Linked DNA regions of Homo sapiens. The protein of the gene in region 1 interacts with the protein of each later gene in a pairwise test. Each region holds a gene or a part of one and is shown in the gene's direction. Other genes may lie near its edges. The genes, in order: ZRSR2, SRRM4, TNFAIP8L1 and REP15.

Region 1 (7,029 bases):
TAGGCATGAGCCACTGCGCCTGACCTGTAATTGTTTTTGAAAACAGAAAAAAAACAAAAAAAATTAACAAATGTAAAAAGGGAAAAGACTTTAATAATTGCAACACACCCAAAGATAGCCACTGTTAAGAAAGAGAAAAAGAAAGTGTAAATGTACTTTACGTGTGTCTTTCTATAATGGCATGATATTTATACATATTTTTCTATAAATTGCTTTCTTGCTAAATATATAGTGCATTTATTTCAGTACTGATGCAGGGATCTAATTCAGCCATTTCAGTGGCAATACAGTACCCACTGTACAGATGTAGCATAATTTATTTGCTATTCATAGTTTATTCATTTATAATTTATAGTTCTCTACTGATGGACTTTCAGGTTATATTGGTTTTTCACTCATATGTAAAAAGTTGCAGTAAGCATCCATGCTTATATATCCTTGGTAATTGTCCAGTTATTTCCTTAAGAACATGACTAAAAATGAGATTGTTGGAATCAAATCATAAGTCCATGTAAAATGTAGATGGCCAGGTAGAAAGGGCTTCCTGGTTTGCAGTTTGCAGCCCTTCTGGCAGTGAATGTAGGGGCCCATCTCCCCATACCTTCACTCATACTAGGCATTATCAGTTTATAAAACTATAATGAAACTGTTTCAAATGCACATTTCTGAATTAGGTAGAGTATCTTTTTATATGTTTTATTACCTATTTGTAGATTGCTCAAGTCTCACACCTTTCTCTTTTGGGATACATGTTTTTTTAAAATTTGTTTTTGTTTTGTTTTGTTTGAGACGGACTCTCGTTCTGTCACCAGGCTGGAGTGCAGTGGTGTGATCTCCGCTCACCGCAACCTCCACCTCCCAGGTTCACACGATTCTCCTGCCTCAGCCTCCCGAGTAGCCGGGATTACAGGCACGCACCGCCACACCCAGTTAATTTTTTTTTGTACTTTTAGTAGAGATGGGGTTTCACCATGTTGGCCAGGATGGTCTCGATCTCTTGACCTCATGATCTGCCCGCCTCGGCCTCACAAAGTGCTGAGATTACAGGTGTGAGCCACCGCGCTCAGCCGAAATTTCTTAATGTCTCTAAGCTTCTATTTCCTTGTCTGTAATATGGAGATAAAGTCAATCACAGTATCCACCTCACAGAATTGTGAAGATTAAAGGAGGTGATGGATGTATAGTGTTTAACACAGTGTCAGCAGATGAGAGGTGCTGTGATAGCTCTAGTTCTTATTATTATAGATTTCTGTTATGATGAAGACAATAGATACGGTATGAAATAAGAGAGTAATTTTTTTCCTGTTTATTTGAAATGCTTCTTTTAAATCACATACATGTATCTTTGTGCTCCTTAGATCTTTATTTCTTTATGAGTTGCATACTATTATTGAAAAGCAAGAAAATTATGTAAAAATACTGTATGACTTTATGTCCTATTTCAAAGCAGATGTATATTCAAGTTATTAAATTTTAAAATTTTTAACATTTTACTTTCTTGTGGTCTTAATTTATATATCATTTGGTTCATTTATATACAATTATATGTTTTTCAAAAGATTTGTAAATCAGAGTTGTGCCCACTGAAACATCTATATGGTACCCTCACACATGGCATAGGAACACTGATAGATGCAATGTGCCAGCCTCTGCCATGGCTAAAAGATGTGTTCCTGGAATCTGTATTTGGAAATGTAATATATTTTATTTAAAATTGTGGTTAGGTCCCCAGACTAGACATAAAACTTTACTGAACTCCTAATACTGCTGAAGTAATATAGAACAGTTTCTCATATTTAATTTCCCTTTTATAAATTCAGTGGAAGAATGAATTTGAGGTTCTACACACCTAATTGGCAGGTAGACTTTGGCAATCTAACCCCCTCTTTATATTAGAAATTTGTGATATTGGATGTCTGAGACACTTGCCACTTTAAGGTAATACCACTCATTATAATTGGTCATATAAAAAATAGACTAGACACTCACTAATTTATTTTTATTTTTTCATTTTTTGAGACGAAGTCTCGCTCTGTCACCCAGGCTGGAGTGCAGTGGCATGATCTCGGCTCATTGCAAACTCCGCCTCCCAGATTCAAGCGATTCTCCTGCCTCAGCCTCCCAAGTAGCTGGGATTATAGGCGGCTGCCACCACGCCTGGCTAATTTTTGTATTTTTAGTAGAGATGGGGTTCACCATGTTGGCCAGCCTGGTCTCAAATTCCTGACCTCAGGTGATCCGCCCGCCTCAGCCTCCCAAAGTGCTGGATTACAGGTGCGAGCCATTGCGCCCGGCCCTCACTAATTTATTTTTATAACTCCATTTCTTAAAACCTGTAGCTTTATTTTAAAAACATGATTACAATGTACTTTTATTTTCCTTCTTTTGGCTGTTTAGGTGTTTGGAGGCAAACCACAGGAGTCTCTTAACTGTGTGTAGTAGTAGTCCAAAGGTTTATGGCAAAGGATACTGGGTTTTCAGCGTGCTGCCATCATGGAATTGCTACTTTTAAGAATAGGGGCTGGGTGCAGTGGCTCACACATGTAATCCCAGCACTTTGGGAGGCCGAGGCAGGTGGATCACTTGAGGTCAGGAGTTCGAGACCAGCCTGGCCAACATGATGAAACGCTGTCTGTACTAAAAATACAAAAATTAGCCTTGCGTGGTGGTGGGCACCTGTAATCCCAGCTACTCGGGAGGCTGAGGCAGGAGAATCACTTGAACCCGGGAGGCAGAGGTTGCAGTGAGCCAAGATCATGCCACTGCACTCCAGCCTGGGCAACAGAGTAATACTCTGTCTCAAAATAAATAAATAAATAAAAATAAATGCATAGAATAGGAAGGGAAATGCTTTCTGAATATGAAAAGGTAGATGCTGCTTTGAAACTTGCTACCCATTTTATTGTCACCTAAACATCACTGTGATCAGTCTAGAGGGAAAGTCATAGTGTCCTTTTTTCTGTAAAGTATGTCACAGCCATATATACCTATGAAATGTAAGAGAGATTTTAAGTTATTACCCATTAGGAAGATAGTTGCTGACACGTGGTGCTTTTCCAAAAGCTCTGCTCTTCTCGTTCTCTTACACCCACTTGACTGCTTTAATAGAAAATAGCTTTCGTGATATTTGAATCAGTCCCAAAATGTGTCATTTTGCTCTCGTGTGTGTGTGTATTTGTGGATTAATGCCCATTTCTTTTATCTGATTACATCATTATACTGATAGGCAAAGATTACATGAGGAGTGGTTGCTAAGAGAGCAGAAGGCACAAGAAGAATTCAGAATAAAGAAGGAAAAGGAAGAGGCGGCTAAAAAACGGCAAGAAGAACAAGAGGTATGGTAGGAATCACGTAACTAGTGAACAAACTGATTACTTCACCATAATAACTCTCATGAAGAGTTGCCTATCTTGGGAGGTTGGAGTGAGCTGAGATCACGCCATTGCACTCCAGCCTGGGCAGCAAGAGCGGAACTCCATCTCAAAAAGAAAAAAAAAAAAGAGTTGCCTATCTTGAACTTAAAAAAAAAAAACAAAAAACTGATCTTATTCAGTTTGCCAGTGTTTTAAGTTTTTCATCTATGTGCGCTGTATGTGAAATGTTTTTAAAAAGTGACTGAAACAAAGTTACTTTTTCTTCCCCTTTAAAGAGAAAGTTAAAGGAACAATGGGAAGAACAGCAGAGGAAAGAGAGAGAAGAGGAGGAGCAGAAACGACAGGAGAAGAAAGAAAAAGAGGTGATTCCTGTCATGGGATGTGCTGTGTGATGAGTTTGAAGAATAATCAGTAGGCATGTCAGAGTTTGGGTTTTTTTTTTCTCTTTTTCTTGTCATTTCATTGTTTGTTTGGAAAGAATCATATTTCAGTTTAGACATAACACCAGAGTTCCCTTCTGATGCTCTTCTTCGGGTCCGTGCAGTGGCAGATTCCTTAAAGTTTTCTTCAGCTTTACCCTATTTACCCTTTATACTGGGCATTGGCAAATGTTGTAAAGGGCCAGATGGTAAATATTTTAGGCTTTATGGTTTGGTCTCTGTGGCAAACATCCAACTCTGCCAGTGTACCCTGAAAGCAGCCATCGATAATATGTAGATGAATGGGTATGGCTGTGTTCCAGGAAAGCTTTATTTACAAAACAGGCAGCTAGCCCTTGCTTTATAGCAAGTTATGTTCTTCTGAGGTTCTGCTGTATATGAGTTGACTTCTTTAGAGAATAATACTTTGTTTTGTTTCCACATTTATTTAGGTCATAAGAGAACTGCTTATGACATGTCAGCAAGAATTAGAGGATTTAAAGAAATCAGGAACTCAAATATTGAGGAACTAGGAAACAGTTTTTGTTATTTGTATTAAATCTTGACTTCCTCTTCCACTTAGGCTATGAAGATAATTGTAGCTAACACACAGTTGCTTATTTAAAAAAAAAAAAAAATCTGTGAGGCATATGTGTGTATGTATCTTCTCTATCTTCCAGGATTCTTTTTTAAGGATTGATTTGGTATGTTTTGCTGCTATTCCTTGACAGTATATTTATTTCAGAGGTATCACAGCTCATCTTCCCTTGACTGATTCATCAGGATTTGTCTTTTTTGTAATACAGCTAAATTTAAATAGCATAAAATTGGATAATCACCTTATAATTGGGAAAAATGCATGTGTCTTCATTGTAGTCAATATGGGGCAGAAGCAGCCTCCACGATCTTTGTTTTTTGTATCTTAGGCCATCAGTTAATTTCAGTGCAGATTTTAAACACCTTTATTTGAGCACTTCTTTCCAGATGAGGCAAGTTCATGCTAGGTTTTTAGGGGGCAGAAAAATTGTTTGGAACTTGTCATTTTTTTATAGAGAGGAATTAATTCCCATTTTAACAGTAGAGTGTTCCTCAACTGAGGTCTTTCAGGAATTCAGTAACAGCTAAGGCCTCTTTTGAATGCTTTTGTTTCAGAGGAAATCTGTGAGACTTCAAGGAGAAATGAGGGAAATGAAATAGATTCTAAGCTTATAAAAAAGAATCAGCAGTATGTGTTCCTGCTGTATGCTAGACACTTCGCTAGCGGACAGAGACAGAGCAGTGAAAGACACAGTCTTTGCTCTCATTGAGCTAGTTTTTTATATGGGAGTGTGAGATGATAAGCAAAACAGATCATTCAAAATGTGATCATATTAAGTGCTATAAAGAAATAAAGCAGGCCAGGCGTGGTGGCTCACGCCTGTAATCCCAGCACTTTGGGAGGCTGAGGCGAGAGGATCACGAGGTCAGGAGTTCGAGGCCAGCCTGGTCAACATGGTGAAACCCCGTCTGTACTAAAAATACAAAAAATTAGCCAGGCGTGGTGATGGGCGCCTGTAGTCCCAGCTACTCAGGAGTCTGAGGCAGAAGAATCACTTGAACCGGGAGGCAGAGGTTTCAGTGAGCCAAGCTTGAGCCACTGCACTCCAACCTGGGCAATAGAACTAGACTTCGTCTCAAAAAAAAAAAAAAAAAAAGAAAGAAATAAAGCAGAGTGATGTGATAGAGTAATGAGAATAGAGTTGTGCTTCTATAGATTGCCTGCTCAAGGAAATTTCTGAGGAGGTGATGTTTGAGCTGACACCTGAGTGGAGAGATCTCAGCAAGAAGAAGCCTGAAGCTTGAAGGCTGAAAAAAGGCCAGGGAACCTGAAATCTAGAGTCCAAAGGAGAGAAGGGCAGTGGAGGAGGTTGCTGAGGGAGAGGGGGCAGTGGAGGAGGTTGCTGAGGGAGAGGGGGCAGTGGAGGAGGTTGCTGAGGGAGAGGGGGCAGTGGAGGAGGTTGCTGAGGGAGAAGGGGCAGTGGAGGGTAAGCAGAGTCAGATCATGTAGGGCTTCCTGGATTTGAAGGAGGAGTTTGGATTTTATGTTTCCTATAATGGGAAGCCATTGAAGGGGTTTAAGCAGGGAATGACTCTGTCTCATTTATATCTGTACCTTTTAACAGATCATTCATTTAAAAAAAAAATTTTTTTGAGATGGAGTCTCATGCTGTCGCCCAGGCTGGAGTGCAGTGGCGTGATCTCTGCTTACTGCAACCTCTGCCTCCTGGGTTCAAGCAATTCATATGCCTCAGCCCCCCGAGTAGCTGGGATTACAGGTGCCTGCTACCACGCCCAGCTAATTTTTGTATTTTTAGTAGAGACAGGGTTTCACCATGTTGGCCAGGCTGGTCTCGAGCTCCTGACCTCCAGGGATCCACCCGCCTCGGCCTCCCAAAGTGCTCGTGTGAACCACTGCACCAGACTTTTTTAACAGATCATTTTTACTTTACTGAAACCTCTGCCTCCCGGGTTCAAGCGATTCTTCTGCCTCAGCCTCCTGAGTAGCTGGGACTACAGGCGCCCATCACCACACCCGGCTAATTTTTTGTGTTTTTAGTACAGACAGGGTTTCACCATGTTGACCAGAGGACAAGGAGAGAGAGAGGAATTCAAGTCATATTTTTAGGTTTTTAGTTTGAATAGACAGATAGACTGGCAACACTATTCACTGAGGGAGCATTCAGGTGGATGTGGGCCAGGGAGTGTAGAGGACAAGAGTTCTGTTTTGAGCACCACAAATAAGCAACTAGACATACGAGTCTTATGTAATGCTTTAAGGGGCTAGGGAAGATAAGACTGTCTGTTAAACATAGGTACAACTTGTTCAAATGCCAATTAGGTAGAAATTTACTGGCATATTGCAGAACCTCCTTTGCCTTATTAAAAAGTTAGAATTTTCTCCTAAATGCTAATTACCACTGGTCATGTCATATTTTAGCTTCTGCTAAATGTTTATGATTTCATCTAGCATTGTTTTTTGGGTTTTTTCGTTTGTTTGTTTGTTCGTTTTTTTTTAGACAGAGTCTTGCTCTGTCGCCTAGGCTGGAGTGCAGTGGCGTCATCTCGGCTCACTGCAACCTCTGCCTCCTGGGTTCAAGCGATTCTCCTGTCTCAGCCTCCCAAGTAGCTGGGATTACAGGCACGTGCCACCACACCTGGCTAATTTTTGTATTTTTAGTAGTGACGGGGTTTCACCG
Region 2 (7,029 bases), on another chromosome or scaffold:
AGAATTGAACCAGTTGCTCAGAAGAGCAGCTATTTCAGGTTTTTAATTCTATGAAAAATGACTCAGATGGCTCCACAGAAAAGGGACTCTATATGGTGCAGTGAATGGAAATTCTGATAATATCCTTTCAAAGTATCCAAAAACAGGTTTCATCTTGACTCTTTCTTATATCTCTCAATGCATAGCCAAAGCATAAGTTGGCAAAAGCACATTTTTCCAGTGACCATAGCTGGACACTGCTGAGGGCACTGAGAAGGGAAGAGCTATTCCTGCCCCTGTTTTCTAAAAGTGGGAGGCATTAACAGAAAGCAAAGAAGACTAGGAGGAGCATAAGGATTAGTCATGTAGATGCACAACAATATAGTCTACAAAAATCAAGAGCACTTTGAAACCAAACAGACGTGAATTAAATTTGGCTTAGAGGCAAACAGTCCTGGGTTCACATCTCTTACCAGCTGTGTTTAGCGAAGTGCATCATCTCTCTGTGCCTCTGTTTCCCCATCTATAAAATGAAATTGATAATAGTACCTAACCCTAAGATGTGTTGAGGATTAAATAATACACACAAAGCACTGGTTCAATGTCTGGCACATAATAAAATATGTCATAGTCATAGCTAACATTTCCTATGTCCTGTCTAATTGATACTTAGCATAGGTGCCAATATGCTATGTGATTTACCCGAATTCACTCATTCAATTTACAATTGTCTAGGGTAAGGACTATTATTACCTGCATTTTATAGACAAGAAAACGGCCCAGGGAAACGAAATCATCTGCCAAGGTCACACAGCTAGTAAGTGGCCAGGATAGTAGGCACAAAATAGAAGTTGTTGGTATTATTATTAACCACCGGTGGGGAGGGGCTTTCATTCTTTGATCGGGGCCCAGTTCCTCTGCCTGGCTTCCAGAAAGAAAAAGGTCACTGCCCAGGGACCCGCTGAATAAAGCTCAAGCCGTCTTGGATAACCCAGGCGGACACTCAGCAGGCTCCTCAGAGGCTGTTACCTCTCCCCCAGGTCCTACTCCCGCTCTCCCAGCTATTCCTCCAAGTCTGGCAAGAGGAGCCCGCCCAGCAGAAGCTCTAGGTCCCGCCGCAGCCCTAGCTACTCCCGCTACAGCCCCAGCAGGTACCGGCCCCGCCCCTCAAACTAGGCCCGTCCTAGGCCCCACCCCTTTGCTCTGATCCTCCTCTCTGGCCCCGCCTCCCCGTTCTCGGGCCTTCTTCCTCTTAGGTCTGACCCTGACTCAGCATTCTTACAGTTCCCTTTGTCCAATCAGGAGTGGCAGCGAGGCATCAAATACCCTTGTTTCCTAATGTCTCCAGCCCAAACAGTCCCGCAGACATACCCCAGAATTCACATCCCCAGCCCTCAGCCTCTACAGACCGTCCCCATATTCAGAGCCCCCAGTTCTTACCCACGCACCAGGGCCTGCGTAACATTCACGTCCTCACCCCTGCAGCACCTGCCCTGCTATGATGCCCACCTGCAAATGCTGACACCCCTGCACAAGCCCAGCCCCCACCCCTACGGTACTAACAACCCTCGCAGACTCTTACCGCAGCCCCGTCATCCTCCCTCCGGTCTCCCTTGCGGCAACGTGCAGACCCCATCCCGTGACCCAGTGGGGTGGGAAAGAAAGGGAGTGTCCCTCTCCCACGCGCTCACGCAGAAAATCCAGCCCAGCCCCAGCTCCCCAGTAACCCCCCGCGCCCCTTCAGGGAGCGGGATCCCAAATACAGTGAGAAGGACTCGCAGCAGCGGGAGCGCGAGCGAGCGCGTCGGAGACGTCGGTCCTACTCGCCTATGAGAAAGCGCCGGAGAGACTCCCCGAGCCACCTGGAGGCCCGGAGGATAACCAGGTGAGGCCAGGGGGCAAGGGGGACCCACCTTCATCCTCGTTCCCACTCCCATTCTTACTCATTCGAGCCTCAGGCTCTCCCTAGGCCTCCTTGGGGCTGGGATTTAGGATTGTGCGAGCTTATGGTCCCCCCAACCCCAACATCATTGAAATTACGTGTCTGTTCAAAGCCTTGGGACTGAGTCTCCCAGCTCAACCAGCAGGGCCTGCAAGAAGGGGGCGGGGCCAGCCTGAAGAATCGGGTGTGGCATGGGGGAGTGGCCAAAGCCTGAGGGTGGAGCTGGGGCCGGGGAGGTGGAGCTGGGGCCGGGGAGGCGGAGCTGGGGGAGAGAGTGGCGTCAGGCCAGGGAATGGAGGCCAAAGCAATGGAGCAGGACCTTGGCCTGGTGGTGGATCCCGAGCAGCGGAGACAGACCTCTACCCTCAGACCTGTACACTCAGCTGTCAGGCTTAAATAAACCTATATGTAATTATACCTTGAACCAAGTGTGGAAAGGACAAACAGGATTGCTTAGTTCCCAAAGGGACCTAGAGGGAGCCACGGTGGATAAGCCGGAGAGCACTGGATGTGGATTGGAATCCTGAATGTACCACTTTGCAGGTGACCTAGGAAAGGCTCTTACCTTCCTGAGCCTCAGTTTTCTCACCCATGAGATATTGGAAGAAATAACTCCCAGAAGCATGAGGATGAAATGAAAAGGGGCAAAAAGATGTGAACGTGCTTTGTAAACTTGAATGCAGAGTACACAATGTGCCATTGTTGATTGAATGGTCAGAATAGGTGGATACCGTTCCTGGAACAGGTAAGGCCTCAGAAGAGAAAAGCTCTAGCAGAGAAGTCTGAGTGCAAGCAAATTTCTCAGGCCTTGAAAGCTGGGAGAATGATTGAATGCTGCCCTAAGATTGGGTTGGGCTCTTCCTGCTGGCCTTCCAGGCATCTGCCACTCAGTCCAGACACTGGACTGAGGAATCAGGGATTCTCCCTGGAGATGACCTGGAGGAGGAAAAAGAATGTGTTTCCCAGATAGCAAGGCTGGGGTGATGGGTCCCCTTCTCCAATATCCCACAGGGCACCCTGCCTCAGCTTGTAAAGAATTCCTAAACCCTTGGGAGGCCAAGGCAGGCGGATTGCTGGATCTCAGGAGTTTGAGACCTGCCTAGGCAATATGACAAGACCCTGTCTCTACCAAAAATACAAAACACTAGCCAGGCATGGTGGTGTGCACCTGTGGTCCCATCTACTTGGGAGGCTGAGGTGGGAGGATCATTTGAGCCTGGAGTGGGGTGGAGGTTGCAGTGAGCCGAGATCGCACCACTGCATTCCAACCTGGGTGACAGAGCGAGACCCTGTCTGAAAAAATGTAATTAATATAATATAATACAATATAATTCCTAGCATAATTTCTAAACCCACTCCCTTGATCCAGTGTCACACAGCTATTAAGTGGCCAGGATAATAAGCACAAAATAGAAGTTGTTGGTATTATTATTATCTTTGGGGTCAACCTAGAGGAAAGCTAAGATAGAGAGTGGCATTTCCAAATGGCTGTCTAGTTTCTTTAGTCAATCTCAAATAATTCATCTTGATTAACCCATTCAGTGTTTCCCAATCTTTAGTCATTCACCAGTATCTTGACCACATATGACTTGTCTGTTTATCAACTGTACTATTCTTAATTTTCTTTAAATAGATATGACTCTTTTCAAAGGTTCATACATTTATTTCTAAAGGAAACGATACAGTACAGTAAATGGAAAATTAGCCTCTTTTGCCATAAATAGATGGTTCTAGTAAAAGTAAAAATAGGAAAACAAAACTATGATTAAAGTTTAGATGTAGATTCTGTTGCAAGCTGAAGGCTCTGAGCTCCAGGCTTGCTTCATGGGGGAAAGAAAAAAGTGAGATAATCATTTTTCAAGACATACTAGCACTAAGCTGAGACTTTTACTTTGATGTGTTCTCAGCACTGCAAGAGAAGTGGAAAGGGAGTATTTTTTCCTAAGGGACTGGGGAAAGGGAGGATATTGGTTTCCCTTGGGACAAGACTGGGGCTCGCTGCGGGGAGGCACGGAGGGGCCGGCCCTCATCCCTCCTCTCTCTGGTCTCTGCAGTGCCCGGAAACGCCCCATCCCCTACTATCGGCCCAGCCCCTCCTCATCCGGCAGCCTCAGCAGCACCTCCTCCTGGTACAGCAGCAGCAGTAGCCGCTCGGCCAGCCGCAGCTACTCCCGGAGCCGGAGTCGGAGCCGGAGCCGGAGACGGAGCCGGACCCGCACGAGCAGCAGCTCTAGCTCCCGCAGCCCTAGTCCGGGCTCCCGCAGCCGGAGCCGGAGCAGGAGCCGGAGCCGGAGCCGGAGCAGGAGCCAGAGCCGGAGCTACAGCTCAGCAGACAGCTACTCCAGCACGAGGCGCTAAGTGCCCCTGAGCCAGCTGCCCGTGGGGGCCCCTTCGCGCTGCCAGCCTCCCCCAACCACCTGCCCTCCCCGCCTTCTTGGTGACAAATAGTGAGGGCTCCTATACCTTGTCCTTCCTGCTTGCCTAGGGGAAGAGGAGAAGAGGGTAAGGGGGCTTCACTCTCTAGATCAGCCTGCTAGGAGCCTCTACCAGCATCATCCTGGGGCCCAGCTCAGGCCTGGGCATATGGAAAGAACCATCATCTTGTGGCACAAAAAAAGAAGAAAGAAAAGAAAACTTCAAGGTTTTGTGAGAAGCAATGGGTCTGTGACTCAAAAATTGAGCCCTGGCCAGGAAAATGTGGAGACAGTTCTTCTCCTCCACTGCTCACAGGAGGCCCGTGGTAATTCTCCCCACCTCCCCGGATGCCCCACTAGTCCAACTTCATGGCTGCACGTGGATGGACCCCCATGTCTGAGAGGGGTGAAAGAGGAGACCAATGGCAGTTCAGGTTCAAGATAACGGGGTCAGGCCTTTAACTTCCTCAAACAGGCCCAAGCAAAGGCTGGAAGACATTTGGGTCCTAGAAGAAGGGATATCCTTGAATACCAGATGGGGACGTTTGACTTGGTGGGAGGTGTCAGGAGATAGGAGTTGGTTAAGATGATAGATAGAAAAACGGAAGGGTTCAGCTGCTGCTCCCAATACCTCAGCATGGTAAGGGGACAGAGCCCAGCAGATCCCAGCTGTGAAGAGGCCACTGCATGGCTGACACAAAACACCTCTTGGCCATTCACAGGGGCCCTGCAACCTCACGAGAAAGGAGATAGTGGAAGAGTCAGGACAGGTTGGTCTCCAGCCCCACTTCCCAAATATGCCTCAGCCCCACTAGCTGGCACCAACTTAATTCCACGGGACCATCTGCTGAACATTCCCCAGTGCCATGGCCAGTTGCCAGGCCCCAGCGCCAGCCAGTCTGGCCTTACCCTCCGGTTGGCGCCTGCCAGCCCCCTCCCCTCTGCCCAGGCTGCCACGCCCTGGATGCCACCCAGTGCAGCCTGGCACCTACCCACCCACCCTTCAGCTTAAGCCACTCCCCTTGCCTCTCAGGAATTTTGCCAGGATGGGGCACAGCAGCTCAGGTTTGGGGGAAAAGACCCGAATCCAGAGTGCAGGGGAGAGGGGCTTGGATATGCCATGTCTTGGGCTCCTGCTGGCTTCTGAGGTTTCTTGTCAGCTTGGGAAAGACCCACCTTTATTTTTGCCCTCACCCCAAGTCCCCCCTGGCTGGGGCTGGGCAGAGAGGGTAAGCTGATCTCCGATCCACAAATACCACCAGCTGCTTCATCCACAGAAGGCGCTAAGAACGGGGAGGTGAGGAATAAGATCCTTAAAATAAACTCTTGGGCATCCCCCTCACCAGCTGACTGGCTTTCCGGAGGCTTGTGGGTGAGTTTCAAGTTTGTGGTGGCAACAGCAGCAGGACAGGGCACGGAGGGAGCGAGGGAGAGAGGACCGGTCCCAGCTTTTGGATATTTTGGGTTATGGGGAAGCAAGGGCCAAACATTCTTTATCCCTCCCACCCCAGGGAAAACATTTGGAAAATAGTCCTTTTTCTTGGAAGCAGTGACGTCTCCCTACCCAATCTTTCCCATCCTATCAACCCATGGGGCTAGAGACTGCCATGCAACCACCACCACGACAGCCCTTCCTCCATCAGAAGACAGGAGTGAGGGCCCCGGGCAGCAGTGGACGACCCAGCCTCCCCATACCGGGCCTCTGGCCCAGACCTAAGCCCTGCCCACAAAGACTAATGGATGCCAGTGCTGTCACTGCAGAAGGCCAGATGGCAGGTGCCTGGGACAGGGGCAGGTGCCCCGGGGAGGGCAAGTACAGCCACTGTAAATAACCCTCGTCCCTGCCCAGGAACCCAGACTGGACTTCAGTCTCCCTCCATGGAGACAAAGGCTTCCCAGAGCCACCAAAAACCTTCTTAGCAGGACAGCTGTGAGAGGCATCAGAACCTCACGTTCGGACTGCCTTCATCAAGACAACTCTAGGGGACCATTTTGCCTGGGGCTCCTAGCAAACCTTTTTATTTATTTTATTTATTTATCTATTTATTTATTTGATGACTGTCTCTCTTTCTCGCCATTAGCAGTATTGAATTATTTATTTATACAGAGGTTTTGTGTGTGTGTGTGTGTGTGTGTGTGTGTGTGTGTGTGTGTGTGTGTGTGTTGGGGGGATCTCCTAAATTATTTCTGTGCATCTCCTTTTTTTTTCTGCTGTTTTTTATGGATGGGATTTGAGAGGCCAAAGGTGAGTGGGCTATTGGCCTTCTCCCTGAAGGCTCTAAGCCTGGAACACCCTGGGGTTGGCCCAGAAGGAGGCACATCAGTCCCAAAATTCATCACTTAACCCAGCGTCCAGGAGGGTCAGGCCTGTACCCCAGCCTCCTGTCCCCCAGGAACCTCACAGGGGTATCAAAAAGATGTAAACAGCCCAGAGGCTTATGAGCTACAGTGATGAATTGACACAGTGGAGTTGCAACTTAGGTGGGGGTTGGAGTCGAAAGTTGGCAAATGGGGCCAAGGCTGCACAAAGTCGAAATCCCTTGTGAATGTCCCTTAGGGAGGCACCAGATTGGAGACAGATGTGCTATCTCCTAACAGAGTGATGAGGCTTCAGTTGAGTACTTGCTGAAGTAGTTGCCTTGTATTTTGAGGGCCATGGTGGATGAAAATGATGTCTGGTTTAGTACTGGAATT
Region 3 (6,582 bases), on another chromosome or scaffold:
TTGCCCTCTAAGACTCACGGCCAGTTGAGGGCGTTAGGTGGGGAAGGCACAGGGAGTTGGGGTTCAAGGGCGTTGAGAGCCAGTGGTTACTGTATTGCTGTGTGGTCTTGGGGAAGTGGCTCAGCCTCTCTGAGCCTTTGTGGTCTCTTCTGCAAAACAGGCAACCTGCCTAGTACATGGTGGCGATGACAAAGTGGGCACACATCGCTGACTCAGGGTCTGCCACGTGGCACTGAGTCAACAGCACCCCTCTTCTGGCCTAGGCCTGTGCAGAGCCAGGGTCTGGTGACCGAGGTCGGAGGGCAGGGGCGGCCCATCCAGCAATTCCCGTGCCTGCCCTGACCTCAGAGGGCGGCCGAGGGTTTGGAACTTCTCCCGGAGTCTGAACTCACACAAAGACCGGCTTTGTGGGGGCTCCTGGGGTAGGTGGGTGCCCACATGGCATTCCAAGGCTGGCAGCCTGGCGCTGGGGTGGGAGTGGAGGCTGAGCAGGGTCTGGGGCAGTGAGAGAGACCGGGGGCGGGTCTCAGGCCCTCCCTCCTCCGCCAGTTCTTCCACACTCCCCTCTTCATTCAGCAGATGTTTCTGGAGTCTGCAGGGACACCGTGGATAAGGAATTGGGCCCATGACCTCCCCTGTGGCCTGGGGTGAGGCAGACCAGTTGGGGTGCAGAGCTGGGGAGCAGAGGAGCAATGGGGATGCCTGGGGAACCTGCGGCTCAGAGGAGGCAGAGACTTGGGGGCCAAAGTGATGGGGATGTATAGTTTACCAGGGAAGAGGCAGGGGCTTGGGGGCCAGGCTTTGGGGGGTGTATAGGAGTTCACCAGGGAGGAGATGGGGCCTTAGGGTATTGAGGTCCACAGGGAAGAGTCAGGGCTCCAAGTGAGGTGTGGAGCTTGGTCCTGGGAGCTTTGAGGAGCTGTCAGCTTGTTCTCAGCAGGTAAGGGCTATGCCCTACTCTGAGATTTAGGAAGAATTCCGGAGCTGCAGGAAGGAGGTGGGTGGAGGGGGAAGCTCCAGGGCTGGGGAAACTGGGCAGGCTACAGGGCAGGGTGGACAGAGAAAAGGAGCAGACAGGGACAGGGGGATGGTTCTGCAGTGAGAGGCCTGGCCCTTATGCCTCGAGAGCTGGCCAGGCTCTCACCTTGGCCACCTCCCCAGTCCCAGCCTGGACGGGGGCTGTCCAAGTCAATGTTTCCCTGTTGGAGGAATCATCGGAGCCATGCCTTCCCAGAAACCCCACAAATGGCCCCCTGTGAACCCATCACCCCCTGGCTCACTCGGGGCTGAAGGCCTTGGACATGCCTGTTATAAACCCTGTCGGGGGCCAGGTGTGGTGGCGGGCGCCTGTAGTCCCAGCTACTCCGGAGGCTGAGGCAGGAGAATGGCGTGAGCCCAGGAGGCGGAGCTTGCAGTGAGCCGAGATCGTGCCACCACACTCCAGCCTGGGCGACAGAGGGAGATTCCATCTCAAAAAATAGTAATAATAATAATAATAAAATAAATAAATAATAAATAAACCAACCCTGCGGGGGCAGTGGGACTGGAGGCACTGCCATAGTAATGGGGCTCCTCCACCCTGAACAGCCCCGGGTCTGGGGCTCACTTGGAACCCCACCTCATGGAGCTGTGGGGTGAGGGTGGGGAGTGTTGAGCTGGACCTAGGGGATGGAACGGAACCCCCTGTAACAATCACCTTGAGCCCCTTCTCAGCTCATAGCAAGGATATGATGGGTTTGAGGGCTGGCATCAGACCCTACAGATAGTGGGGTTCAGAAGGGCCTTCTCTGTTTGTTTATAATAATAATCATAATAATAAATACAAAATAAAATTTTTGATTTTTTTTTTTTAGAGATAGGGTCTTGTTATGTTGCCCAGGCTGGTCTCAAACTCCTGGCCTCGCAATTCTCCTGCCTCAGCCTCCCAGAGCACTGGGACCACAGGCATGAACCACAGGCTTGAATTATAGGCTGCAGTGCGGTGGCATGGTCTTAGCTCACTGCAACCTCCGCCTCCCGGGCTCAAGGGATTCTCCTGCCTCAGCCTCCCAAGTAGCGGGGATTGCGGGCACCCATCACCAAGCCTGGCTAATTTTTGTATTTTTAGTAGAGAGAAACATGGGTTTCACCATGTTTGCCAGGCTGGTCTCGCACTCCTAACCTCGATCTCAGGCGATCCGCCTGCCTAGGCATCCCAAATTGCTGGGATTACAGGCGTGAGCCACTGCGTCCGGCATGACACTTTTTAAAGAAACAAATTCCGTTAGGCCCTCTGGGGTCTGTGGTGTTGTCACCTCTTCTGTGTGAGGAGTGCCCCAACGTGCAAAACTGAGGGCTGGTCTGTGTCCCCCGCAGGCCATGGACACCTTCAGCACCAAGAGCCTGGCTCTGCAGGCGCAGAAGAAGCTCCTGAGTAAGATGGCGTCCAAGGCAGTGGTGGCCGTGCTGGTGGATGACACCAGCAGTGAGGTGCTGGATGAGCTGTACCGCGCCACCAGGGAGTTCACGCGCAGCCGCAAGGAGGCCCAGAAGATGCTCAAGAACCTGGTCAAGGTGGCCCTGAAGCTGGGACTGCTGCTGCGTGGGGACCAGCTGGGCGGTGAGGAGCTGGCGCTGCTGCGGCGCTTCCGCCACCGGGCGCGCTGCCTGGCCATGACGGCCGTCAGCTTCCACCAGGTGGACTTCACCTTCGACCGGCGCGTGCTGGCCGCCGGGCTGCTCGAGTGCCGCGACCTGCTGCACCAGGCCGTGGGTCCCCACCTGACCGCCAAGTCCCACGGCCGCATCAACCACGTGTTCGGCCACCTAGCCGACTGCGACTTCCTGGCTGCGCTCTACGGCCCCGCCGAGCCCTACCGCTCCCACCTGCGCAGGATCTGCGAGGGCCTGGGCCGGATGCTGGACGAGGGCAGCCTCTGAACCCCGGCGCCGCCCAACCGCGCCCCTCGCGCCTTTTGGGGCTCTCCTGCTGGGCGCGGGTGGGGTTTGTGGGTTTTTTTCCACCTCTTTTCTCCCAATCGGACTCCGGCCAAACTCCCCTAGACAGATGGGTGACCTGTCTCCTTTGAGAGGATGCTGAGGCATCTGTAGCAGCTGTTTCAAACACCAATGTCACCTCTCCTCCTGGCCCCCGCCCAATGGGGAGAGGAATTTGGGGCCCTACTCTGGGGACCACCTTTCACCCGTTTGTACTTTCTGGGCCACGCCGACCCCTGGGTCGCTTGATGTAAAAGCCAAAAGCTGCTGCCTCCCACTTGGATCATGTCGCCTGGGATTTTCATCCCTCGCACAAGGACTACGGGTTCACACGGTGAACTGGGGGAAGGGAAGTGTTAGGGGGCAAGTCGCGGCACCCCCCCTTCCATAAACTCACGTCCTAACCCCCAGGACCTCAGAAGATGATCTGATTTGGAAATAGGATCATTACAGATGGAATTAGTTCAGATGATCTCATCTTGGAGTAGGGTGGGCCCCAATTCAAGGACTGGGGTCCTTAAAAAAAGGGGGCCTGGGGCAGGGCGCGGTGGCTCACGCCTGTAATCCCAGCACTTTGAGAGGCTGAGGCGGGCGGATCACGAGGTCAGGAGATCGAGACCATCCTGGCTAACACGGTGAAACCCCATCTCTACTGAAAATACAAAAAATTAGCTGGGCATGGTGGCACATGCCTGTAGTCCCAGCTACTCGGGAGGCTGAGGCAGGATAATCACTTGAACCAGGAGGAGGAGGTTGCAGTGAGCCGAGATTGTGCCACTGCACTCCAGCCTGGGTGACAGAGCAAGACTCTGTCTCAAAAAAAGAAGCGGGGGAGTGGGGGATTGAGGCCACGTGCAGTGGCTCACTACTCTAATTCCAGCACTTTGGGAGGCCGAGGCAGGAAGATTGCTTGAACTCAGAAGTTCAAGACCAGTCTGGGCAACATGGTGAGACCCTCGTCTCTACAAAAAAAAAATTATCGTGGTGGGCCGGGCGTGGTGGCTCACACCTGTAATCCCAGCACTTTGGGAGGCTGAGGCGGGCAGATCACAAGGTCAAGAGATCGAGACCATCCTGGCCAACATGGTGAAACCCCGTCTCTACTAAAAATACAAAAATTAGCCGGGCATGGTGTTGCGTGCCTGTAGTCCCAGCTACTTGGGAGGCTGAGGCAGGAGAATCGCTTGAACCTGGGAGGCGCAGGTTGCAGGGAGGCGGAGGTTGCAGTGAGCCGAGATTGCACCACTGCACTTCAGCCTGGTGACAGAGCGAGACTCGTCTCAAAAAAAAAAAAAAAAAAAAAAAAAAAAGTGACTGTGGTGGTGCACACGTATAATCCCAGCTACTTGAGAGATGACGAGGGAAGATCACTTGAGCCCAGGAGTTAAGAGGCTGCAGTGACCGATGATCATGCCACTGCACTCCAGCTTGGGTGAGAGTGGGACTCTGTCTTAGAAAGAAAAAAAAAAGTATTTGGACACAGACATGCATGCAAGGAAGGCCAATGATGCCGGCCACCACCAGGAGCTGGGAGAGGCCCAGGGCAGATCCCCTTCAGCCTTGGAGGGACCTAGCCCTGGCCACACCTTCATCTCAGACTTGCGGCCCAGAGAACTGAATGAGAATAAATGTGCGTGAAGCCCCTCAGTCCACAGGATGTGGTACTGGAAGCCCCCACTCAAGAAGGCTCCAGTGAATGCTGGCACGTTCAGCCAGGATGCCTCCGTGAAGCTGGAGACCTCTGCCCTGGGTCGGGAGGGGAAACTGCTCCAATCCAGGGACTGCCACATGGGAGGGGACGGAGCGTGCCCACCTCCCAGGGGTGAGGGGGGACCCACCTGAGATGTGTGCACATTTTATTTATTTATTGTTTTGAGACAAAGTCTCGCTGTGTCACCCAGGCTGGAGTGCAGTGGTGAAATCTCGGCTCATTGCAGCCCCTTCCTTCCAGGCTCAAGTGATCCTCCCACCTCAGCCCCGGGTAGCTGGGACTACAGGTGTGCACGAGCACACCCGGCTAATCTTTGTATTTTTTGTAGACAGAAGGTCTCACCATGTTGCCCAGGATGGTCTCGAACTCCTGGGCTCAAGCGACCTACCTACCTCGGCCTCACAAAGTGTGCACATTGTAATATCGTGATTTCATATTTGGAGAATCAGCAACCAACCAGCCAACCATGTTGCTTTTATAAGACAGAGCTGAGAAAGCAAAGCTTGGCTGTCGTCTTGGCTCTGGTACCACCCACGAGATGCGGGCGATTCTCAGCTCAGGGCGTGGAGGCGTGGTGTGGGGGAGTCTATTTGCCATTTTTGTTTGTCAGCAGGGGGCAGGGGTTCTCAAAGATTGCAAAATGCTGCTGCAGGTCAGGAAGGTTATTTTGGGTGCCTGTGGGGGAGGTGAAACAAGGTCCCATGACTGTTTTGCAGAACCTTGTCTGTGGAGGGTAGAGGTTGCGGCAGGGGCCTGTGGGCCTTACTTGGTGAGAAGGTAGGTCTAGCTGGCTCCATTCAGTATTTGAGACATTTGGAATTTGTCTGCATTTAAAACCAAGAGATCACACACACCTGTCTGGATTTGGAGTTTCTCTTGAAAACTCGCCAGTCCGGCCGTCTGAGCCTGCACTGACGCCTGGTGAAGCTGTGCAGGGGCCGCCCCTCTCCCTTTCACCACAGTCCTCTCCACTCCCTTTCGCCTCTCCCTGGCCTGCTGCACTCACTGATAGGAAATTCTGACCCCAGACTCGGAGCAGCCTTCCCGTGGTTCGGTTTTTGCTTCCGCGAAAAAGCCAAAGGCCTTGGCCAGAGAGCCAGCTGTTCCTACCTCTACCCCACGCTTCCAAGGCAACCTTCTCCACTTATCTTAGGCCGAGAGACAGCTCTTCAAGAACGTACATGGATCCTGATTTTCTCACGAAGTCCCGATGGAACCCTGTGCTGTTGAGACATCAGTGTGTAAAACTCTCTGTGTCCCTGTTGGGCTGTCCAGACAGTCTGGACTCTTGTAAATTTGAGATTTAATTAAAGGAAACAAACCAAATAGGACTGCGGAACAATTTAAATAAAAGCACACACCAGCCTGGGCGCAGTGGCTCATGTCAGTTAAACCTAGTGCTTTGGGAGGCCGAGGCAGGAGGATCACTTGAGCCAAGGAGTTCAAGACCACCCTGGGCAACATAGCGAGACCCTATCTCTAAAAATATATATATATAAGGCCAAGTGCAGTGGCTCACGCCTGTCATCCCAGCACTTTGGGAGGCTGAGGCAGGCAGATCACCTGAGGTCAGGAGTTCAAGACCAGCCTGGCCAAGATGGTGAGACCCCATCTGTACTAAAAAGTACAAAAATTAGCTGGGCATGGCGGCGGGTGCCTGTAATCCCAGCTACTTGGGAGGCTGAGGCAGGAGAATCACTTGAACCTGGGAGGCGGAGGTTGCAGTGAGATGAGATCGTGCCACTGCATTCCAGCCTGGGCAACAGAGTGAGACTTGGTCTCAGAAACAGAATAAAAAAATAAAAAATTATAGCCAGTCAGGGTGGCATGCACATGTGGTCCCAGCTATCTGGAAGGATGGCTTGGACCCAGGAGGTTGAGGCTGCGGTGAGCCG
Region 4 (6,630 bases), on another chromosome or scaffold:
AAGAATAAGGTTAATTTCCTGAGATTCATAACAAGGGTCATTTATCATTGCATCATTTATATGCCTAGGATGCCCTTTTGTTTTTATCCATATTTAAACATCCAGCTACTTTTCTCTCTACCATGGGGTAAATAATTAAATTATACATATAGGAGGGAGGGGGCAACGCAAAAAAAAATCACATGTTATCAGGCCTTGATTATATGAATTTTATCAAATCCTTTGGATGTTTTTGTTTGCTTTTCTTTTAAAGCCAAAGAAACTTGCCTTTAGCAATTTTGGGAATTTGAGAAAGAAGAAACAGGAAGATGGTGAAGAATATGTTTGTCCAATGGAATTGGGACAGGCATCAGGAAGTGCATCTAAGAAAGGATTTAAACCTGGTTTGGATATGCGCCTGTATGAGGAAGATGATTTGGACCGGTTAGAGCAGGTAAATCCAACACTGTATAACTTTTTGCGAGTTCTTCCATCATTCAGACACTAAATGGGAACTTTGTATACTGTGTCTGATCAAGGACATTTTCTTCAAATAACTAAAAATACAGATAATAATAGTGAACACTTAGAGATCACTTATATCTTCCAGGTACCATCCTAAGCACTTAATGCATACTATGTTTATGGTAACCTTAAGACATGGAGAGCATTGTTATTCTCATTTTGGAGATAAGGAAACTGAGGCACAGAGAGCTAAGTAACTTGCCCAAGGTCCCCAACCTGTCTCTTTGGCTCCAAAGCCTGTCATATTTACCAATATTTTGCCATCTCTGTATTAAAACATGTTAGGAATGGACAGGTTATTCTACCTAGCCTTTTCAGATTAAAGTCGTGGGACCGCATATTTCCCCTCTAATCAACAATGCTTTGCTACTATTAGCAAAGGCATTAGACTAGCTGTGTCAGTAAAGTGTCTCTTCTAATTTTTCACTTCCAGTTGCAGTGGTGAAAGGAGATTATCACCAGAAGTGTTCTGTTGCTCTTACCCCATTCAGTGCTATTTGCATTATTTCTTCTTAGACTTTTGTTCCTCCTGCTGCACTTTCCCTGAAATTGTGAAAACACTTATGTCATGTTATGGTTTGTTATTTGCAGATGGAAGATTCAGAAGGGACAGTGAGACAGATAGGTGCATTCTCTGAAGGCATCAACAATCTGACGGTGAGTTTGTGAAATGAATTGAAAATGTTATTCTATAAATGTCTTTTATAACAACCCCAAAGGACCACATGTCTCTTGGAGAATGTGTAGCTCTGAGCTCTTGGCTCTCAGTGTGACTCCCTGTCTCCTTGTTTTCCAGCACATGTTAAAAGAAGATGACATGTTTAAAGATTTTGCTGCCCGTTCCCCCAGTGCCAGCATTACAGATGAAGACTCAAACGTTTGACCGTAGCACCTGGATGAACATTAGGAGTGCTTAGTCTTTTTTCTACTTGCTTTTCCAAACACTCACAGTATATACAACAGGCAGCGGATTGTCTATTGTTTGTTGTTCCAACTTCTGCTGTCGAGAAGTTTAAACAGAAAGCAGGAGTAATGTGCCGATTCTGAAGTTGCCACAAAAAATAAGACACTGGTGAATGAGAGTATAATTGTTTTTCTTCTATTTAATGTAAAAATCTGTGATATATTATATTTAAAGTGTTGCATTTAAGATGAGTATTTTACCAGAGTGTTTCCATTCATATCCGCGGTATGGAGGATTTGAGGAACAGTAACCAGGATGTGAATGATTTTGTTACATCAGTGTTCACTGTAGCCACCTAAGTAGGACATTATATGATTTCAGAATCAATATGTGGAACTTCTTTAAGCATTCAGTGTGCCCACTAAATGCCAGCCACACCTCCACTTGCCTCTTATTGTCTTATTTTTATATATTTTTCTAAATATATGTATATATACAGTACATAGAAAATAGAACTTTTATTTTGTGACCTAAGGACGATGGTGAAAAGATCACGTTTTCAAAACAATCTGGTGATCAGAATGTTCATATACCAGCTGGTTTCTGAAGAGGTCAGAATGATCTTTCTCCATACTGACTTTTAACAATGTTGATCATTGAGGCTAAATTAATATATATGAAATATTCCTTTTTGATGACACCACAAAATTGTTGAACAGTTTAAGAATTTCAACCTTAATCTTGGATCCCTTTACCTCATATGGAAGAACTTGAGGGACATTAGTATACTTTTTTTTAAGATGGAGTCTTGCTCTGTCACCCAGGTTGGAGTGCCATGGCATGATCTTGGCTCACTGCAACCTCCACCTCCTGGGTCAAGCCATTCTGCTTCAGCCCCAAGTAGGTGGGACTCCAGGCATGCACCACCATGCCTGGCTAATTTTTGCATTTTTAGTAGAGACAGGGTTTCACCATATTGGCCAGGCTGGGACTCGAACTCCTGACCTTGTGATCTGCCCGCCTCAGCCTCCCAAAGTACTGGGATTATAGGCATGAGCCACCACGCCCAGCCTGTTATTTTTTTATTATTATTGTTTTTTTTTAGTGACAGAGTCTCATTCTGTTGCCCATGCTGGAGTGCAGTGGCGTGATCATAGCTCACTGCAGCCTTGAATTCCTAGGCTCCAGTGATCCTCTCACCTCAGCTTCCCTAATAGCTAGGATTACAGGTGTGTGGCCTCCCACCCCACCCCACCCTTCACACCTGGCTGATTTTTCAAAAAGTTTTTTTGTAGAAACAGGGTCTCACCATGTTGTCCAGCCTGGTCTCAAACTCCTGTCCTCAAGTGATCCTCCCACCTCAGCCTTTCAAAGTGCTGGAATTACAGGTGTGAGCCACTCTGCCTGGCCTACCACTAACTTGAATACATTCAGAATCACCTCCTCTCCCCAAAATTTGTAGAAATAGTTTTTGAGGAAGCCAAAAGCAAAGCAGAAACCTTTACAGTATTGTTTCTTTTCTCTTTGTTAACTGTGTCATTACAGCAAAATACTAGCAGTCTGCCTAAACATGTTCATTGTACATTTCTCAGGCTATCAATGAATGGAGGTTTTTAAAAAGTTGAATATTTGTCTGAACATTTTATTTCAAAGTTCAAAAAAACAGAGGCTGCAAAATTCATTTTATAATGGCTATTTTGTGACGATAAGATGTAGTTCATGTTTTTCTGTAGCACTGGGCCCAAATATTCTTTGTAAAGAAAATCGCTGCAGCAAAAACTGTTACTGTGTTTATTATATTTGTAGAAGTATTAGAAAAATATTCTATTTTTTATTCAGTGCTGCGTAATTACCCATGGTAGCCAACCCTACAAAAGACAGGTTTTCACAAATTGAGGTGGAGGTGGGCGGTTCAGTATCTGCCACTGGACTTGATTATAAACTGTATTTGAATATCAGTGGTATTATCTTTTAAGTTGTCAGCAAGTTACCAAGGTATTCATTAAAGAACTTGTAATATCAAATTACTATTTATTCATAACAATTGATTTGATGCTAATAATAATTTTCTTTAAACTCTACCATTCATTATGTGGTAACTGTATTGAACTTACTTTATTTGGATTTTATTTTAATGTGACTAGATGTCACCACTTCAAAAAATCAATTTGTTCTTAGAACCTGGTTGAAAATACCAGGAAACTGTTACAGACGCCATTTTTTTTTTTTTTGAGACGGAGTCTTGCTCTGTTGCCCAGGCTGGAGTGCAGTGGCACAATCTCAGCTCACTGCAAGCTCCGCCTCCTGGGTTCACGCCATTCTCCCACCTCAGCTTCCCAAGCAGCTGGGACTACAGGTACCTGCCACCACGCCTGGCTAATTTTGTTTTTGTATTTTTAGTAGAGACGGGGTTTCACCGTGTTAGCCAGGAAGGTCTCAATCTCCTGACCTCGTGAATCGCCCCCCTCGGTCTCCCAAAGTGCTGGGATTACAGGCGTGAGCCACCATGCCCGGCCCAAATATTTTTTATTCAGGATGGTATAACCTAACTGATAATAGGTAATAAGGTTAAATTTTTTTATGACGTATTTTATTTACAAATATCATACACTGCTGGTGTTACCATATGAAAGGAAATAAAGTCAATTGATAATTGCCTCATTTTTATTGCCCTTATTTCATTTTCCGTTGTTCATAGTAACAGGCTTTGTTTCTGACATAGAAAATAACACAATCTCTTTATAAACTGCCATAAATTTGTTCGAATGGAGTTTATAATGTGTATCAACAGATAGGAATTTGAGGCCTTTGTTTGAGAAGCTTTTGTAGGAAAAGAAGCAACTGAGCTGGGGAATGAAGAATCATGGCAGAAGGTAAAAGAAACAAAAACAAACAAAAAAAGAAAATAGGAAAAGCAAATGGAAATGACTCACCTAGAGATTGGAAGAAGTTAGTTGTAGAAAGAGGTGTATGGATATTTAAAAAACTAACATAGGGCTGGGTGCAGTGGCTCATGCCTATAATCCCAGCACTTTGGGAGGCCGAGGCGGGAGGATTGCTTGAGCCTAGGAGATTGAGACCAGCCAGGACAACATGGTGAAACCCCACCTCTACAAAAAATACACAAAAATTAGCCAGGTGTGGTGGTATACACTTGTAGCCCCAGCTACTCAAGAGGCTGAGGTGAGATCACCTGAGCCCAGGGAGGTTGAAGCTGCAGTGAGCCATGATTGCGCCACTGCACTCCAGCCTGGGTAGCAGAGTGAGACCCTGTCTCAAAAAACAAAAACAAAAAGAACTAACGTGCTATTTTTACTTCAACTAAAACTTGGAAAGAGGAAACATGTTGGAAGAGATTACCAAAGATTAAAAGTAGAGTGAATATAACCTAGATAGAACAGATGTTTTGTGTGAAATTTAGTATCTTTAACTTAATAAACCAGCAGGAACTGTATGAACACAACACACCCAACTGACAAACAGAGAGAACTAACATGTTTATTTAGCTGTATGTATATATGCTTAACTACACCCGAGGAAGCTGTAGAGTTAGAAAAACATGAACCATTAACAGATGTGGCCTCCCTGCAGAACTTTTACTTTGAAAAAGAAGTACGTCTGAACCAGATTCACATGTTTGATATTTGGATGCAGAGAAAATGGGGCAGAAAGCATCGCAACAGTTGGCTCTGAAGGACAGCAAAGAGGTGCCCGTCGTCTGTGAGGTGGTCAGTGAAGCTATAGTCCATGCAGCTCAGAAACTGAAGGAGTACCTTGGATTTGAATATCCTCCAAGTAAACTCTGCCCAGCTGCAAATACTCTGAATGAGATCTTCTTAATCCATTTCATCACTTTCTGCCAAGAAAAGGGAGTTGATGAGTGGCTGACCACCACCAAGATGACCAAGCACCAAGCCTTCCTGTTTGGTGCAGACTGGATTTGGACCTTTTGGGGATCCAACAAGCAAATAAAGCTTCAGCTCGCAGTACAGACTCTGCAGATGTCTTCACCTCCTCCTGTGGAATCTAAGCCTTGTGACCTTTCCAATCCAGAATCAAGGGTAGAGGAGTCTTCCTGGAAGAAAAGTAGATTTGATAAGCTGGAAGAATTCTGTAACTTAATAGGAGAGGATTGCCTGGGTCTGTTTATCATCTTTGGTATGCCAGGAAAGCCTAAAGACATCAGGGGAGTTGTCCTGGACAGTGTCAAAAGTCAGATGGTGAGGAGCCATCTGCCAGGAGGGAAGGCTGTGGCTCAGTTTGTCCTGGAAACTGAAGATTGTGTGTTCATCAAAGAGCTGCTCAGAAATTGTCTGAGTAAGAAAGACGGGCTGAGAGAGGTGGGCAAGGTTTATATCAGCATTCTCTGACTTGGATATGTATTATGTGAGTGGCCTGTAAGAGGAAAAGAAAAAAAGATTCTAATAAGCAAGCTCACCTATTTGCATCATTCCAGCATGGGATTTTTTTTCATTTGTTTTCCCATTGATTGAAAATGATTACTGGGATCAAAGTACATTCATGTCGCAATTACAGAGAGAGAGAGAAAAAAAGAAAACCCTGGCTCTGCCTATGATTTAAAAACAGTTCAGGAAAAGTTATAATTTAGTTTAATATTTCATTCACTTATTCAATAATAAAAATGGAAGAGAGATAATAAAGTCACATTTAAAGTTTGATTTGCAAAAAAAAAGTGTCTGTTTGAAATAATAAGTCTAGCACTCAAAAGTATAAAATGTGTTTTTGCATCTGTTGGTGGGAGATGGGTAGGATAAAGTAGTGGGTAAGGCTACAGAGCAGGTTTAATTACATTTGTAATGCCAGTTTCAAGCCAGGCACAGTGGCTTATGCCTATGGTCTCAGCTACTCAGTAGGCTGAGGTGGGAGGATCGCTTGAGCCCAGGAGTTTAAGGCTACAGTGAGCTGTGATTGCACCACTGTGCTCTAGCCTGGGCAACAGAGTGAATCCTCATCTTTAAAAAAAAAAAAATAGTTTGGGTTCAGGACTCCTGCACAAAACTCACAGCGTTCTTTTCCTCTAACACTTACCTTATTCTGTCTTCTCCCTAGCTGCTGTCTCTGCACTGAGAGGACTTTGATGGGATTTACTTTGAGATTCACTTTAGTGTTAGCTCTGCCTATGATTTAAAAACAGTGACCTATAAAACTATTCCTTTTAATAATACTTGTTTAGCCTTTGCAGTAAGGAAGGTGTATTCACA

The links.
Region 2: the proteins of ZRSR2 (region 1) and SRRM4 interact in binary tests that used the Homo sapiens proteins (3 or more experiments, as listed by UniProt).
Region 3: the proteins of ZRSR2 (region 1) and TNFAIP8L1 interact in binary tests that used the Homo sapiens proteins (3 or more experiments, as listed by UniProt).
Region 4: the proteins of ZRSR2 (region 1) and REP15 interact in binary tests that used the Homo sapiens proteins (3 or more experiments, as listed by UniProt).

Annotation. Positions count from the first base shown.
Region 1 is NC_000023.11:15,800,462-15,807,490, forward strand, and holds part of ZRSR2 (U2 small nuclear ribonucleoprotein auxiliary factor 35 kDa subunit-related protein 2), read left to right. Parts: intron 1-3,226; coding exon 3,227-3,335; intron 3,336-3,649; coding exon 3,650-3,736; intron 3,737-7,029. UniProt on the Homo sapiens protein: Pre-mRNA-binding protein required for splicing of both U2- and U12-type introns. Selectively interacts with the 3'-splice site of U2- and U12-type pre-mRNAs and promotes different steps in U2 and U12 intron splicing.
Region 2 is NC_000012.12:119,152,520-119,159,548, forward strand, and holds part of SRRM4 (serine/arginine repetitive matrix protein 4), read left to right. Parts: intron 1-1,019; coding exon 1,020-1,130; intron 1,131-1,723; coding exon 1,724-1,864; intron 1,865-3,975; coding exon 3,976-4,279; 3' UTR 4,280-7,029. UniProt on the Homo sapiens protein: Splicing factor specifically required for neural cell differentiation.
Region 3 is NC_000019.10:4,649,512-4,656,093, forward strand, and holds the end of TNFAIP8L1 (tumor necrosis factor alpha-induced protein 8-like protein 1), read left to right. Parts: intron 1-2,355; 5' UTR 2,356-2,358; coding exon 2,359-2,919; 3' UTR 2,920-6,057; downstream 6,058-6,582. UniProt on the Homo sapiens protein: Acts as a negative regulator of mTOR activity.
Region 4 is NC_000012.12:27,691,496-27,698,125, forward strand, and holds REP15 (rab15 effector protein), read left to right. Parts: upstream 1-4,951; 5' UTR 4,952-5,067; coding exon 5,068-5,778; 3' UTR 5,779-6,101; downstream 6,102-6,630. Other genes in the region: PPFIBP1 (liprin-beta-1), read left to right, coding at 254-433, 1,096-1,161, 1,301-1,387.